2 linked regions of the Homo sapiens genome follow. The protein of the gene in region 1 binds, or shares a complex with, the protein of each later gene. Each region holds a gene or a part of one and is shown in the gene's direction. Other genes may lie near its edges.

Evidence for each region.
Region 2: CYFIP1 (region 1) and ABI1 share a complex: the UniProt entries of both Homo sapiens proteins name them as parts of the WAVE2 complex.

The regions. Positions count from the first base shown.
Region 1 is NC_000015.10:22,941,321-22,950,142, reverse strand, and holds part of CYFIP1 (cytoplasmic FMR1-interacting protein 1), read left to right. Parts: intron 1-2,113; exon of another isoform or gene 2,114-2,232; intron 2,233-2,824; exon of another isoform or gene 2,825-2,851; coding exon of another isoform or gene 2,852-2,857; coding exon 2,858-2,974; intron 2,975-3,050; coding exon 3,051-3,140; intron 3,141-5,203; coding exon 5,204-5,281; intron 5,282-5,483; coding exon 5,484-5,585; intron 5,586-6,788; coding exon 6,789-6,970; intron 6,971-8,822. UniProt on the Homo sapiens protein: Component of the CYFIP1-EIF4E-FMR1 complex which binds to the mRNA cap and mediates translational repression. In the CYFIP1-EIF4E-FMR1 complex this subunit is an adapter between EIF4E and FMR1.
Region 2 is NC_000010.11:26,766,048-26,773,958, reverse strand, and holds part of ABI1 (abl interactor 1), read left to right. Parts: intron 1-2,869; coding exon 2,870-2,884; intron 2,885-3,613; coding exon 3,614-3,714; intron 3,715-4,966; coding exon 4,967-5,107; intron 5,108-7,911. UniProt on the Homo sapiens protein: May act in negative regulation of cell growth and transformation by interacting with nonreceptor tyrosine kinases ABL1 and/or ABL2. May play a role in regulation of EGF-induced Erk pathway activation. Involved in cytoskeletal reorganization and EGFR signaling.

The DNA.
Region 1 (8,822 bases):
GATTCAGGTCTACCATTTTATTATCTGACTTCTGTTAGATCACTATCTTTATCATTGCTCTATTTCCTTTTAGGTTTTTAAAAACATAGTATTCTGTTTTAATTTATTCTAAATTATATGTTATCTATTTTGCTTTGGATAGCTTTTTTAAAAAGTATGTTAATTTTTCTTTTTTTAAAAGAGGCAGGATTTCACTGTGTTGCCCAGACAGGCCTTGAACTCCTGGACTCAAGTGATCCTCCCTTCTCAGCCTCCCAAGTAGCTGGGACTGCAGCGCCTGGCTGTACAGCTTTCTTCGGTGGTTGCTCTAAGGATTTCGAAGTCCATGCTTATTAACATTTCATATTCTGCTGAGGATCTGAAAAGTCTGCTTTTTACTACTTCTAGTGGGACATAGAAATCTTACCCCATCCAGGTTTCCCCTCCCCCTTTTAGATTACAGTTGTCTTGTTTATATGATTTATACAATTATATACCTAGAAATATTTTATAATTTACTTGTTATGTATTTGTGTAATTTACATTTATGTACACTGAAAGGCCCATTAGACAGTACTTTGATTTTTGCTTTTAACCGCCAAGCACTTTGGAAGAGCTGTGGGGTCGTTGTGTGTCCTGCGCCCTCGCCGCTTAGCCTGCCTACTGCCTCTGCTTTGTGGTTCGTAGCCCATGCCTCCTTCCACCTCCCTTCCTGTCAGCCTGTACCGCTGGCCAGCATGCTCTTTGTTTTCCTCCTCTGCCCACGTCCTGGCTTCACCTTCCTTCCTGGAAGACACGTTCCCATCTTGAGGGAGGATCCCAAGTTGGCACCTCCCCGCTTTAGGCTTAGGCGCATTGTGCCCGCCTTCCGGCCCGCCTGGTCCCCGCTTTAGGCTTAGGCACATTGTGCCCGCCCTCCGGCCTGCCTGGTCCCCGGGGGGAATCCGCGGCCCTCCCACTGTTGCTCTGTGCTCTGCTGAGCGTCATTTCTCCTGCTGTTTTCAAGATCTGTTTTCCTTTATCTTTAGTGTTCAGCAGTTTGACCGTGATGTGTCTGGGTGTGGATTTCTTGTTTGTCTTGTTTGGGATCCATAGAGCTTCTTGAATCTGTAGACAAAAGACTTTCTCCAAATTTAGGGTGTTTTCTGTCATTTTTTTCAGCTGTTTTTCATCACTGCTTGGTTTCCCCTTTTCCTTTTGCACTCTCATGGCACAGATGTTAGACCTTCTCTCTTGTCCTGAAGATCCCCAAAATTTTTTCAATCTTTTTTTCTCTCTGGTATTCAGATTAGAAAACTTAACATTGCTCTATCTTCAAGTTCACTGAATCTTTCCTGAGGTTTTTTTTTTTTTTTACATTTCAGTAGTGTGTCTTTTAGTTTTGAAATTTCCATTTGGTTCTTCTTTATATCTTGTTTTGTTTGCCTTTTGCTGATTTCCATTTTTTCATTCAGTTTGGGAGTGTTACAATCGTTAGAGCATTTCATAGCACAGTAGTTGCTTTAAAGTCGGGTGGATAATTGCAGCACCTGTGTTATTTTGGCATCTGTTGATTCTCTTTTCCTGTAGGAGCCCATACGTTCCTCGTTCTTTGTGTGCTGAGTAATCTGGGCTGTAAGTGGATGGTTGGATGTTATGATATGAGATCTGGGTCTTGTTAAAATCCTAGGAGGATGTTGATATTTTTATTTTAGAAAGCAAACACCCTGAGGAGACTTGGGCTGTGGTTCTGACTTGCCTTCAGTGGGTGGCAGCTCCATGTCAATTCTGGCTTCACAGCCTCCTGCACTGCCACTTGGACCTGCCCCCTGTGTGCCGCTGGTGGCTGTCTGGCTGTGGTCTCAGGGTTTGGGGTGTGAAGAGGATCAGATCCACACCCCTGCAGCTTGAGGATGGGCTTGAAGCTCATGAGCAATTTTGTCGGCTGGCTCTTCTGAGCTGCTTCCTCTCCACACTGCCACTGGGGCTTCCTGGGTCCCTGGAGAGCTTCCCTTCTCCACCCTCAGCCAGTGCAGTGGGACTGACTACCCGTTCCACTGTGCACCTCCATGCCTGCGCCAGTGCTGGAGGAGGGATTTGGGGCTCCTTCTGTTCAGTGTCTCCTCCAGGCCACCTGCTGCTCTTTCCTTCATAGAATGTGGCTCAGCTGCCCCTGGTCCCATCCCAGGGCAGAGCTCCTCCTGAGTACCCTTGAGACTGGAGCAGATTCAGCAGAAGGCAGATTGCCCCCTCTCCCTGGAGCTGGCTCTGAAGGTGTGTTTAGACGATGTCTGCCTTCATTTCTGCACCTCTGCTCCAGCTGCGGTGTGGCACTTTCTGTCCCCTGCGGCAGCCCCATACTCCTTGCAATCTCAGCCTGTCTGTGCAGCTAGACAGCTGGTGTTGGGCGGCAGGGCGCTCGTCTTTTCCATGTCAGGCCCTAGTGTGTTTGGAGGCACCACCTGGGAGGTGGCTGCATTTAGGGAGGCTCTGCTGGGCAGATGTGGCATTGGAGAGGTGCTGCCCCTCCAGCACTTTGAGGGGGTCGTCAGACCCTCGAGAGAGTCCTCAGCACCAGCAACTCAGGACGGCGGCCCCCATGGTGGGAAGGATGGCAGGAACCATGTGCCCCATACTGTGACCCTCCTGGAGGCCAGGAGAGCCTGTTCTCAGCGAGTGTGGAAGGATAAGCTGCACAGGGCCTCCCAGCCTGCTGGCCCACGTGCCCTGAGAGAGACACGCAACTCCCAAGGACTGATCATGCCCCTGTCAGCCATGTCCGGTGCCCTCGGGAGAGCGGGAAGGGGTTAGAGGCCTGGGTACCCAACCTCGAAGCTTGTTGGGTGTCCCCTCCTTCTCCTCACAGAACAGGGGTCCTTATGTGTTGTTCCAGCCCAGGATGGCGGCCCAGGTGACTCTGGAGGACGCGCTGTCCAACGTGGACCTCCTGGAGGAGCTGCCCCTGCCCGACCAGCAGCCCTGCATCGAGCCCCCGCCATCCTCGCTGCTCTACCAGGTGGGTGCCCAGCAGCTGCAGGGCGTACAGCCTGTGCTCCGACCCCACATGATGTTTTTCTCTTCCTTTCCTTCAGCCAAATTTCAACACTAACTTTGAAGACAGAAATGCATTTGTTACTGGCATCGCAAGATACATTGAACAAGCCACCGTCCACTCTAGCATGGTAATGTTGCGGTGTGTCTTTGTTTCTCTCTGCAGAGAAGGGCGTGTTTGAAGGACAGATGTATACTTTTTGGTATTATCCCAATAGACTATGCAGTGAGGAAAAAGAGAAGAAAATGAATGAAATGCCTTATATTTTTAAGACAGTCTTTGCTTTTCTTAGTGTAAAAACAATACATGCTGGTTCTGAAAATTCAATGTCTCTGGCCCAGAGAAAACCTTTGTCAGCGTTTCAAGGGTGCACCTGCCCTGTTAATGCTCATTCCCTCTCCAGATCTGCACCCACACACACCAGGTATGTGCCCATATGAGATTTAGATTTATAAATGAATTGCATTGTTATTATAGTTCTGCTTTTTTTTTGAGACAGAGTCTTGCTCTGCCACCCAGGCTGGAGTACAGTGGCGCGATCTTGGTTCACTGCAACCTCCGCCTCCCAGGTTCAAGCAGTTCTTGTGCCTCAGCCTCCCGAGTAGCTGGGACTACTGGCGCCCACCACTACGCCCAGCTAATTTGTGCATTTTTAGTAGAGACAGGGTTTCACCATGTTGGTCGGGCTGGTCTCGAATTCCTGACCTCAAGTGATCTGCCCACCTTAGCCTCCCAAAGTGCTGGGATTACAGGCATGAGCCACCACACCTAGCTAGTTCTGCATTTTAATGGTCTCATCAACAGGTTTTCTTTCTTTCTTTTTTTTTTTTGAGATGGTCTCACTCAGGTTGCCCAGGCTAGAGTGCAGTGGTGTGATTAGGGCTCACTGCAGCCTCAACCTCCCGGGTTCAAGCAATCCTCCCACCTCTGCCTCCTGAGTAGCTGGGACTACAGGCACACACCACCATGCCCATCTACTTTTTTGTGTTTTTTGTAGAGGCGAGGTCTCACCATGTTGCCCAGGTTGGTCTTGAATTCCTGGACTCAAGGAATCCGCCTGCCCAGCCTCCCAAAGTACTGGGATTACAGCCTGAGCCACTGCACCTGGACAAGAATATTTTCATGCCATGAAAATGTGCTAGAGAAAGCAATCCTTAATGGCTACGTAAACCATTTTGTAAATGTCCACAATTCAACTATTTTTGCGCATTGACTTCCTCTTTTATGTCGTGTAATAAAAAAATGCTGTAGGCTGGGCGCAGTGGCCCACGCCTGTAATCCCAGCATTTTGGGAGGCCAAAGTGGGCGGATCACCTAGGGTCAGGAGTTCGAGACCAGCCTGGCCAACATGGTGAAACCCTGTCTCTACAAAAAAAAAAAAATACAAAAATTAACCAGGCATGGTGGTGCGCACACCTGTAATCCCAGCTACTCAGGAGGCTGAGGCAAGAGAATTGCTTGAACCCGGGAGGCAGAGGTTGCAGTGAGCTGAGATCGTGCCACTGCACTCCAGCCTGGGGGACAGAGCAAGACTCGTCTCAAAAAAAAAAAAAAATACTGTGATGAACGTCTCACTAAATAAAGGCTAGATTTAAGAGCATCTATTTGATTTTTTCCAAAGGAAACGATGTTAAAGAGTGGAAAGCAAAAGCAGTTTTACAGCAGTGATGACAGTCCTCTTCCCATGGACTCTCTACCTAGATTTTAAGTGCTGTGGGCGTGCTCCTAACTTTTCCTCCTGCACACCCGGGGCTGGCAGCCCTGCCTCTAGTCCTCTCTGGGACCGGGAGGCCCTGTGAGCCAGTGAGGAGGCCATGGGGATCCTGTGTGTGCTCACACCGGGCAGGGCGTCTGCCCTGAGCCCTTCCTCTGTGTTCCTAACTGCAGGTCTCATGGCCAGCAGGTTGTTGAGGGCTGGGTGGAGCCAAGGTGTAACGCCTGTGGCACCCCTCAGAGATGCCTGCGTGTCACTGACACCCCTCTCGCCTGCAGAAGCCATGGGGTGTTTTGGGTGGTCATTGTGGCCCCCAGCGCCGCACCTCAGTGTCACTAGCTTCTGGCAGCCGTCTCTTGGCACACAGGCCACAGTGCTTAGGATAGTTTGTGGCGCTTTGTCTGGATTTTAGCAACTGGCATCTGCTTTTCATGCTAGTTCCCCCGCCTGCCTTTGATTTGCCCTGTGTTCCATTGCAGAACGAGATGCTGGAGGAGGGCCAAGAATATGCTGTCATGCTGTACACCTGGAGGAGCTGCTCCCGGGCCATCCCACAGGTGCCACGCTCGCCTGGCTCTTCCCCTCCAGCCACACCCTGCCAGGCCCCTGCCACACCACACCCCTGCCCCTGCCATGCCTGGCCCACTCTCCTCCCAGTTCTCACCCCACAGCAGGGCGGGATCACTAGCTCTAGAAGCCCAGCGGCTGCTTCTGGCTGGATCAAAGCCTCTTATGTCATCCTTGTTCCTTTATTCCCAGGTGAAATGTAACGAGCAGCCTAACAGAGTGGAAATCTACGAGAAAACCGTGGAGGTTCTGGAGCCTGAGGTCACAAAACTGATGAATTTCATGTACTTCCAGGTAAAATGGCAAATAATCTGGGGGGGGTGTAACACCGAGGGGTGGGTTGCTGACCCCTTCCTACCCATCACTGTCACTGTGAACACCCTGAACAGAGTGCCTGCAAATTAAAGCAACCAGTTTCTGAGACAAAAGGGACCAAGCCTTTGACAGTCTAAAGTTCCTCATGCCCTTTCGGAATCAACGCTCCTTTTGTGGTTCACTTCTCTTCTCTGAGAGTGATTTTATGTTTCCTTCATGGAGCCTGCTTTCTGTCAGTTTCAAGTACAATGCTTTGACTTTTTGCCAGTTTGTACTTTTTTTTTTTTTTTTTTTTTTTGAGACAGAGTCTTGCTTTGTCGCCCTGGCTAGAGTGCAATGGCATGATCTCGGCTCACTGCAACCTCTGCCTCCCAGGTTCAAGCGATTCTCCTGCCTCAGCTTCCTGAGTAGCTGGGATTACAGGTGCCCGCCACCACGCCCAGCTAATTTTTGTATTTTTAGTGGAGACAGGGTTTCACCATGTTGGCCAAGCTGGTTTTGAACTCCTGACCTCAGATGATCTGCCCATCTTGGCCTCCCAAAATGCTGAGATTACAGGTGTGAGCCACCACGCCTGGCCAATTTGTACTTTTGTTTTCGTCTGCTCTTTCAGGTATTTTCTTGCTGTTAGCCTCACCCTGACTGTCCATTCCTGGTGGTCCTCGCCCTGGCCTTGGTTAGGCAAGAAGTAGCCACATGGAAGGGGCTTGCTGCTTTTTAAAGAAGTATTTTGGAAACATCCAGATTTTTTATGATGATGTCCTTCAGCAAAGGGAGGAGATGGAACTAACTGGGAGATGAATTTTTGTTTTACCTTGAAAGTTACCAAGAGGAAAAAAATCTCTCCCAGTTTTCACTTCTGAAAGTTAGAACATCTGAATTTTACAGGCGTTTTATTGGAGCATTTTGCTCAGTAATTTTGCTGGAATAATCAGCAAGATTTTGTTACTTTAGTGATGTAGTTGGTAAAGTGCAAGTCAAGTAATGATGGTGCAGAGCAGGCAGTGGGAGCTGCTTTCAGGAAGGGGTCTGGTTGCCCACATTGTAAACACTTCGGCCTGGAGCCTCACTGGGCAGATCGTTTCTCATCGAGGAGCAGTGACTGCAGGTGCTTGAAGGAGGGACATGGGCTTGGCTCCTCACTGACCTGCAGCTTTCTGCCCTCCTGCTTCCTCTGCACAGAGAAATGCCATTGAGCGTTTCTGCGGGGAAGTGAGGCGCCTGTGCCATGCCGAGAGGAGGAAGGACTTCGTGTCAGAAGCCTACCTGATCACACTGGGCAAATTCATCAACATGTTCGCTGTGCTGGACGAGCTGAAGAACATGAAGTGCAGTGTGAAGAACGACCACTCAGCGTACAAGAGGTGAGCACCCACCTCGCGCACTGCGGGCCCTCCCGAGAGCACCCAGCTCAGTGGCCTGCCTTGTGCACAGCAGGTGTGCGTCTTTGTTTGCTGAAGTCGTCACTTCTGGTAGGCAGCAGCTACGTCTCAGTGTCAGGGCTGTGTGAGCACCTGCTTCGAGGGATAAGGTGAGGGGAGCCAGCAGATAAGTGCATATCGTGGCTTTGCACAGCTAGAGCAGGCTCTTCGTGCCCTGGCTGTCCTCAGATGTCACAGAGGACCTTCGAGCCCCTGGGAAGACAGACATGCACAAGATGTAGGCCTAGCTCACAGAGCACAGGCATCTGGCTCAGGGAGCATCTTGGCAAGGGGGCAGGTGGCCTCTGCAGCCTACCTTGGGCGTTGGGGCTGCAGTCCTCGGTGCCGGTCACTCGCCAGCGGGGGTCCCCAGCACATGAGCACCATCCCAGCAATGTGCAGACGTGGCCCGTGCACAGTCACAGGGTGTCTCGTGGTCACACTGCGCTTCCAGATCCTCTCCCTGGTGGTTTTCTTTCTGGATGTAGAGAGCTTCTGGAGAAGCTAGCCTCTGGAGAGGCTGGCAAGACGAGCGGAAGAGGCAGGCATGGCCCAGTGTGTGCTTCTGGAGCAGTGTGGGGCAGTGGGTGGCCGATGGGCATTTGGTGACACTCGGCGCGCTGCCGACCGGCGTTCGGTGACACTTGGCACGCTGCCGACCGGCGTTTGGTGACACTTGGCACGCTGTCTCCTGATGCTCTTGCTCTGCTTCATCTGTGCTCAGTGCTTTTGAAGACATGTTTTGCTGGAATGAGATGCTAATTTCAATTTCCTCTGCTAAGTAAGGCATCTTAGCTCTAAAATTAAATTCGAAGAGACCTTACTTTGCATCTGAATATGCTCTAGTTATGTTGCATTTTAAATCATACAACTGTTGCTATGTCTTTATTTTAAAAACCCACTTGGGACAAAATGAGGCAGCAGTAGGAGTCAAGCTAGGTCAGGCAGAATTTTAAGCCTCATTCATGTGAAATAATGCAGTGTTCCATTTATCACCTAAAATCATCAGCTCTGCACAGAAGTCTAGATCTTCAGAACTAGAGAAAGGTCTCTGGAGTTGACCTGTGAGCCCCTCTTGGGGCAGAAGTCTGAAGGGTCCCTGTTTGATAACAGCATCTGTGGGAATCTAGCATCGAGACTCACTGGTCGGAGTGGGCTCCTGGTCCCAGCCGCCCAATCCAGTAGCTGTGTGATTTTAAGCAGCCTTCTCAGCCGCCGTTTTGGCTTTGTCAGGGAAATGGGGGAGGTGGTTTTCAATATTTAAAAGTATTTAAAAGTTGTGTGTGTGTGTTGTTGTTTTTTTTTTCCTTTTAGCACTAGCACCTTTATTCTAAAGCCTAGTCTGTAAAACAGTTTACAGATGGGGCTGCTGTGTGCAAAGCTGGGGGAAGGAGGGTTTCCCCTCTAGCGTCTTCACCACCTCCAGGTTCCCCTGAGCACCAAAGAGTGGGCCTGGGGCAGTTCCGTAGCTCTTACTGCTGCCTCTTCCTCTGACCTCTATCTGGGACCCCTGTTGGTTAACCTTCCCAGACCATCACCCCCACCCCTCCCAAGACCCCCACCACACACACACGCATCTAGCTCTTTTGGCACCTGCTCGTGGCTACTAGTATAACCTCTTTTAAGTGTCAATGCCAAGATAACTCATATGGTTATGGTGAGGCTTGAGGAAAATAGAAAACAGTATCCTTGACCCTTTCCTTAGTCTCCCCACCCGCCACCTCAGCAGCTACTCAAATCAATAAAGCAAACATGGCCAGGTGCGATGGCTCACACCTGTAATCCCAGCACCTTG
Region 2 (7,911 bases), on another chromosome or scaffold:
TGATCTAGGAGTTGTTAGATTTTATTATTGGTCTTAAAAGATAAGCTTAGATGTGTTACTTTTTTTGGAGTTTTAGTTTACAGTGATTCATGAATCGGGCAGCTTCAGACCACAGGAGACATGAAGCAGGTAGAAGTTCAAGAAAGCAAGACAAGCAAAATATTTGATTGGTTAGAAGTTAATTGTGGTTTCTGATTAGTAAAGTTCCTAGTTAGAGGTTAGTTGGAGGTTTCTGATTAAGTTTCTTTTAATTGTGTTTTGGTTTGCCTAAGTAGGAACCCAGAATGCTGGAGCCGTCTCAGCCTAATGGTCTCAGCCTAATGGCTTTCTGATTAATTTTTTTAAAACAGTGTAGAAACTAAAGCTTTATAATGTTTACATAGGAAGATTTTTTTTTAATTTTTATTTTATAAAGCAGAGGAGTGAGTTAAGAATCATTTCAAAGAAAGAATTGGCCTTGGCTGGGTGCAGTGGCTCATGCCTGTAATCTTGGCACTTTGGTAGGCTCAGGTGGGAGGATCACTTGAGGCCAGGAGTTCGAGACCAGCCTGGCCAACATGGTGAAACCCCGTCTCCTAAAAATACAAAATTTAGCCAAGCATGGTGGCACACAGTTTTAATCCCAGCTACTTGGGAGGCTGAGGCAGGAGACTCGCTTGAACCCGGGAGGCAGAGGTTGCAGTGAGCCAAGATTGAGCCACTGCACTCCATCCTGGGCAACAGAGCCAGCAAAAAAAAAAAAAGAATTAGCATTAGACATTTAGTGCCTATGACATACAAAACTATGATGTACTTAGAAGATAGGGAGGAATCAAAGGGAATTTCAAACAGATTCCAGGCAAATGGTAAAATTACTCATCCATAAAGGTAAATGTTAAGGAAACAAAGTGAGATTTTTTTAAAAAGAGACAGGGTCTCACTGAAGTGCAATAGCTCAATCACAGCTCACAACTTTCTAGGCTCAAGTGATCCTCCCTCCTCAGCCATCCAAGTAGCTGGGACTACAGGTGTGCGCCACTATGCCTGGCTAATTTTTTATTTTTTTTTTTCAAGAGAAGGGGTTTCGCCTTGTTGCCCAGGCTGGTCTCAAACTCTTGGGCTCAAGCAGTCCACCTGCCTTGGCCTCCCAAAGTGTTGGGAGTTACAGGTGTGAGCCACCGTGCCTAGCCTGAAATGAGATCTTAAGGAAATAAAAAAGTTTCATTTTGGATATATTTTGGGGATATTTAAATAAAAAATTTTATAGATTTCTAACAAAAATATTAGTATTTTGAGGTGTAAGATGTAGAGGTTATTTCCTACTAACACTTGCCAACATTGACACATCTGCATGTCTAATAACACTTAATAGAGGAGGCCGAACTTCATAAGAGGTTAAAGCTTATACCATTGCATAGTAGCACAGAGTTCAAGTAGAATTTTCATTCCCAATCTAATTCTTCTTTTATTCTTTCCATTTGGGACCAGCTTATACTTGAATGCTAATTTTTTTGTTTCTTATCCACTTGAAATGACAAATGAAGGAAGATATGTGGACATATTTAGAATATTTTCTTGGTTATTTTAGGATAGTATTTAGTATTATGTATATACATTATAAGATATACATTGCTATGTAAGTATATACTATACATGTATAGTATATATCATAATACAGATACTGAAGTATACATTAGTGTATTTTATCTTCAAGGATCCTAATAATGTTATACTCAAAATTTATTCTCTAGATGTGAAATGTCATGGTTAGGTAGGGTACCAGATGTTGTTTCCAGATAGAAGTAAGCAGTATCATTTTAAACAAATATTGAAGTGTACCAAATTTCTCGCACAGTTTCTATAAATGAGAATGTATCCAAAAGACACCAAATCTCTCCTTTGGATGATTTCCTTTGATACTGCCTTGTGGCCACCTGAAAAATGGTAGTTACTTGTTGAGAATGTCAGATGTTATTTAAAAAAAAAAAAAGCTTGAAGCCCCCAAATCTGTAAAAAATTAGACTCTAAAACCTGAAGATATTTTTTTTTAGTGGCATTGTACAAGTAGTGATGCTTTAGGACTACACATTGTTTCATGTTGTGTAGGCTAGTCAGCTTTAATAGAAGTAGCCTTTAGGATCAAAACAACTTTTCTTCAACTTTGAATTTTGACTTAACTGGCTCAGATGAAAACTTAGAACTAAAGCTACTTAGAACTTCCTATTAGTGTTGGCCTGCACAGGATTGGGGTTCAGAAGCTAGGAATGAGAGAGTTTTCCAGACCCTGTTTGTTTATTTCTTAGTTAGAATCTGGCTAAGTTATCACTGTGCATGATGAATTTGTTTTTAAACATCGAGATACTAGGTCCTTTTTTCATTTTTGGAAGCAATCTGTGGTTTTGAATTTTAATGTTTGCAGTTTATCACTTTTTAAACTATACTACCATTGAAGTAATGAATACTCATACTTGGACATTCATTATCCAGTAAAGTGTTAGGTCTCATGCACCGATATGTTAAAATAGCTTCACATCTAATGTGTTATGGTGTTTGTATTTAAATGAGCGTATTTTTAAAATCATCTGTTACTCGGTTGGATTAGTTCCATAGGACAAAATACTGACTTAAAAAATCATTGAGCCTGCATGAGATTGGAATAATTAAGTGGTGGTTTCCTTATGAATATAATTCTTTTGAAAAATACATGAAACACATGAGTATTTCCCCAGTACGTATGGATCTCTTTTTCTTTACAAAGTAGTTGAAACATGGCTGGAAAAAAGCTTATTAACATGAATTGAGTAACTGTAAATGTAAACCTGTCCTATCGGATATAACTTACCTAGCATTAATGTCTACTTTTTCCCCCCCTTTTTTTGCCAACGTAAAGTGGCTAAAAGCCAAGGTAAGAGCCATTACTTATCATTTGATCCACAGTATTTCCTCTGTATTGATAGAGGCTGCAGAGCCACTAAAATTTGAAAACTCTTCTTATGTCTGTCTGCTTTTCCCTGTAGGATTTATGTAGATTATTTAATACTCAAGTTCAGTTCAAATAAGCAACATTTAGCTTGGCTGTGTTAATATATCAATGATATATTGACATCTGTGTTTATATAGGAACATTAATTTTGCTAACATTTATTGCTTTGCTCATTTTTCGATAGTTGCCTTGCTTTCATTGACTTACAATTAGGAGGTTTCCCAGACATCATATGTGACTTTGTTACTGAATTGTTAGGATGAAGATGATTTTTCAGATGCGTATTTGAGCAAATTGACAAGTAAGATCTATAGTTTGTGTTCATGCACACATTTCAAAAATTTTAGGAAACCCAGTGTTTGAATGCAGATAAGTTTGATCTCAGTGAACATGTTTAACAATAAAATAAGATATTAAATCCAGTCATCTCACCTGTATTTGGCTACAATGTGATATAAATGGCATAAAATAATAGGAAGACCAAGTGCAAGTGGTTCCTTGACTTTTTAAACTGTAGTACCAAAGTCTTTATTCAAACTGTCTGGGAATCCTTAATTCACATTCTGATATTTAAAAAAAATAATACATGGTGTTAAAACACCAGGAGAACAATTTGATATAAAAATAAAAGCATTTCTTTCTACATTTTAGCATGGAAATAACCAGCCTGCAAGAACTGGCACACTGTCGAGAACAAATCCTCCTACTCAGAAACCGCCAAGTCCTCCCATGTCAGGCCGGGGAACACTGGGGTAAGAATTCAACTACATTTTGCAAAAGAATTCATATGCTAAAGGAAAAGATGTTTCTGTGACTTAAGTAAGTGTATGGGATCCATGCCACACTACCCTCTCTATGTGACGCTACCTTTTACAAATTCATTTTAATTCCTATTTTCCTGAACAGAATCCCAAATGAATCTGCCAGCTTTGTAATATTCTCTATAATCTGTACTAGGAAAGTTTTTATGTATGTATAAATGGCATGATTTATTTTTTTGTCATCTAATTTTTAAAAAATATAAATCTGACTTGTTTGTTTTAAATGGAATGATTAGAGTATTCCAAATGGTGCCTTTGCATGTGTTTACAGTATCTATATTGTAGAACTTTGACTAGTGGTCTACTTTTGTGTAGTATGGCTTAGTCCACAGCTCTTCTGTTTCGCCTATTGGTGTCTGAGACTTAGGGACTCTTTACTTTAGGAAAGTATGCACTTTACTTGTAACTATGCTTCTGCTGGTAATCTTAGGCCTCTTCACACTAGAGTAGCTCCATGGGAAGGCCAGTTGGGCAAGTAGAAAAGATAACAGTGGCTTCTTCCTTCCTAGTTCTCAGTGTACTAAATATAGCGAATACTTGTCAAAGCATTATATTTCTTTAAGGTTGTTTTTCTTAATACTGGAAATATTATATTGGATTTCTTATTTTTTGGCAGAGGGGTTGTTCAACAATCAGTCTTCTTTTAAGAAGGTCTTAGTTTTCATTTTTATTCATTAAACCCTCTGCCCCTGAAAAAAAAAATGAAGTTATTAAACAGAATAGTCGAAATCATTTATTGAGAAAGTAATGATTAGAATGTATATCTCCATTTATTGCCATATTGAGATGGGAATAAATTGCAGCTTCCTATGTAAATAAATTTAGCTTCCTGTTTAAAGAACAGTGGCTTATGGGTGACTGTACTGAGAAAAATGTACATTTTAAAGTTTGCTATTATTGAGCATTTAAAAAATTATAACCATAATTTTTAGAAATAAGGTTAGGACTTTAAATTACCCTTTCCTATGTTTTTCCTAGGAAAAGGTAACAAATTTTAGTTTTCATGTTAAAGTAACAAAATTCATATATCCCAGTGAAGAATATTTTTTAAAATTACAAACTTTGTCATATATATTTTTAAATCCTGGTATACATGGTCACAAAGGGAGACTCACATATTTTTGGGAAAAATACAATTTTATCTTTTTTATTCATTATTCCTTTCTCCACTATGCTCCTTTAGACGGAATACTCCTTATAAAACCCTGGAACCTGTTAAACCCCCAACAGTTCCTAATGACTATATGACCAGTCCTGCTAGGCTTGGAAGTCAGCATAGTCCAGGCAGGACAGCATCTTTAAATCAGAGACCAAGGACACACAGGTAAGCCTTTAGGTTGAGTATCTCAACATCTCTAAAGTGGGTGTAACTGACTGGCGACAAACTCCTATGGAGGTGCTGAGTAAAGGTGAGGTGCCACTCTAATGCTAATATAAAATGTAAAAGTTGGGGGAATAATATTATATATGTTCCTGTAAGTTTGTGTTATAACTTCTGTTTTGTTTTGTTTTTTTAACTTTTTAAAACATCTATTTGTACTATTAATGGATTGTTTGTATTTCCTCCTTTTGATAGAGGTACAGACTCTATCAGACTCTACGGGTTAAGACTAAAGAATTTTTTTCTTTTTTTTTTTGTGACGGAGTTTTGCTCTCGTTGCCCAGGCTGGAGTGTAGTGGTGCGATCTCGGCTCACTGCAACCTCTGCCTCCCAGGTTCAAGCGATTTTCCTGCCTCAGCCTCCCAAGTAGCTGGGATTACAGGCCTGAGCCACCACGCCTGGCTAATTTTGAGTTGAGACGGGGTTTCTGCATGTTGGTCAGGCTGGTTTCCAACTCCCAACCTCAGGTGATCCTCCTGCCTCGGCCTCCCAAAGTGCTGGGATTACAGGTGTGAGCCACTGTGCCCAGCCCTAAGAATGTTTTAAAATGCTCTTTTAAAAAAATTCAAGGCAAACCACTCAAATACTTTTGGAGAAAAGATTAAATATCATAGGAATTATACAACGTGATTTAAACTTTCAGAGATTGAAGGAAAGAAGATTAAGCTTAAATCTGAGGGAGATTTTTTTAAGAGAATCAGTATACTAGAATATGTTGTTATAATAATAATATTATTATTATCTTTTTGGAGATGGAGTCTAGCTCTGTCACCCAGGCTGGAGTGCAGTGACGCGATCTCGGCTCACTGCAACTTCTACCACCCAGGCTTAAGCAATTCTCCTGCCTCAGCTTCCAGAGTAGCTGGGATTACAGGTGCATGCCACCACGCCTGGCTAATTTTTGTATTTTAGTAGAGATGAGGTTTCACCATGTTGCCCAGGCTGGTCTCTAACTCCTGACCTCAGGTGATCCACCCACCTCGGCCTCCCAAAGTGTTGGGATTACAGGCATGATCCACCGCTCCTGGCCTTGTATTTATTATTTTTAAATGTCCTAAAAGTCAATTACCCGGTGGGTTTTTAAAAATTTAGTTACAGAGCATAACAAGCATTCAGAAAAGTATCCACTTCAGTAAGTATACAGCTTGATGAATGGACACACACTCATATAACCATCACCCAGATCAGAAAATGGAACATTACCAGCAACCCAGAAGCCCCTCATGCTCCTTCCTGGTTATCGCCTCGACCTTCTTCCCCCAAAATATAGCCACTTCAATTTTTGAGTGCTTTATAAAACCAGATAAATTTATTATATAACCAAATTTGTTTTATTCTTCAGTTTTCTCTCTCACTTAATAACGTGGGCAGGGAACCTCTCTTTTGCCTTCACTCTTAGGTTGGTAAATGAGAGATAACTTATCAAAATGATTTATGGGAATTCCACTAAATAGGGTATATCAAGATGCGAGATGCTAGGTAAGCGGTATTTATTACTATTGGTGCTGTTAGTAAACAAATTGTTAAGTTGATATCTGCAGTTACTGTATCAGGTCAAGTTCTTTGAGGAACAAAATTGTTCTCTTTGTTGTTATTGAACTCTTGGATCAAAGTATAGTTTTTCTCTATAGTGGAAGCATAGTTTAATCATATTCAACAAGCAGTTATTAAGTGTTGTTTCATTAGATACTAGGCATTTGTCAATAGGGCATAGTTCTTTTTTCAAGAGCTCATTCTGTTAGAACAGGGATCAGCAAACTTTTTCTATAAAGGGCCAGATTGTCAATATTTTAGGATTCGTGGGCCATATATATGGTTTCTGATGCAATTACTCAGATCTGTCATTGTAGCACAAAAGCAGCCATTGACAATACGTAAATGAATGTGGCTGTGTTCCAGTAAAACTTTATTTATAGCACTGACATTCTAATTTCATATAATTTTAATGTGTTACAAAATATTATTCCTCTTGATTTTTTTAACTATTAAAAAATATAAAAAACATTCTTAACTCACAGGTAGTAAAAATCAGGCAATGGACCAGTTTTAGCCCACAGGCCATAATTTGCCAACCCCTTGTTGGAAAAAAGACAGTAATTGAAGAGGAGCATAATAAGAGCATAAATATTCATATGTCTATGATGCAGTGGTAGCACAAAGCTAAGTATTGATCACCTGGCTTGAGGGAGTTAGGGAGGTCTTCACATCTAAGCTATGTCTGTTTTATAAATGACTTTTTTCTTTTTCTTCCATTAACATATGATAATCTAATTATAGAATGATCATATTGCAGAAGAAAATAAAAATCTTATCCAGGCATTGCAAATCTTTGCCCTTTGAATTTCTGGGCTTATTGAGCAAATTATGTAGATTTTAAAACATAATATGGAGCCTAAGGCTGCATGTGCACAAATATATGTTTTTACACATGTACACACATTACTATAAACAACTGGATGGCACAAGATCTTATACCTTACTAGAAACAACTAGAGGGAGCCAGGTCCTAGAGCTAACAGGACAGTACATCCACAGGAAGTAGAATAGCGAGGAGTTGGTTAGAGTTTATCAGTAGCAACTATTCCAGAATGTCCACACTGAAACTTCACTATTGTCTTTCTTTGTCGTTATGCTTATTTTCCAGAAAATTTCCCTATGTTATCACCTTTCTTTGAGATGAGAGGAAGTTTCATATTAATTTTAGACTAGAACGGAGTACCCTTTTAATTTACTTCCACATCATTTGT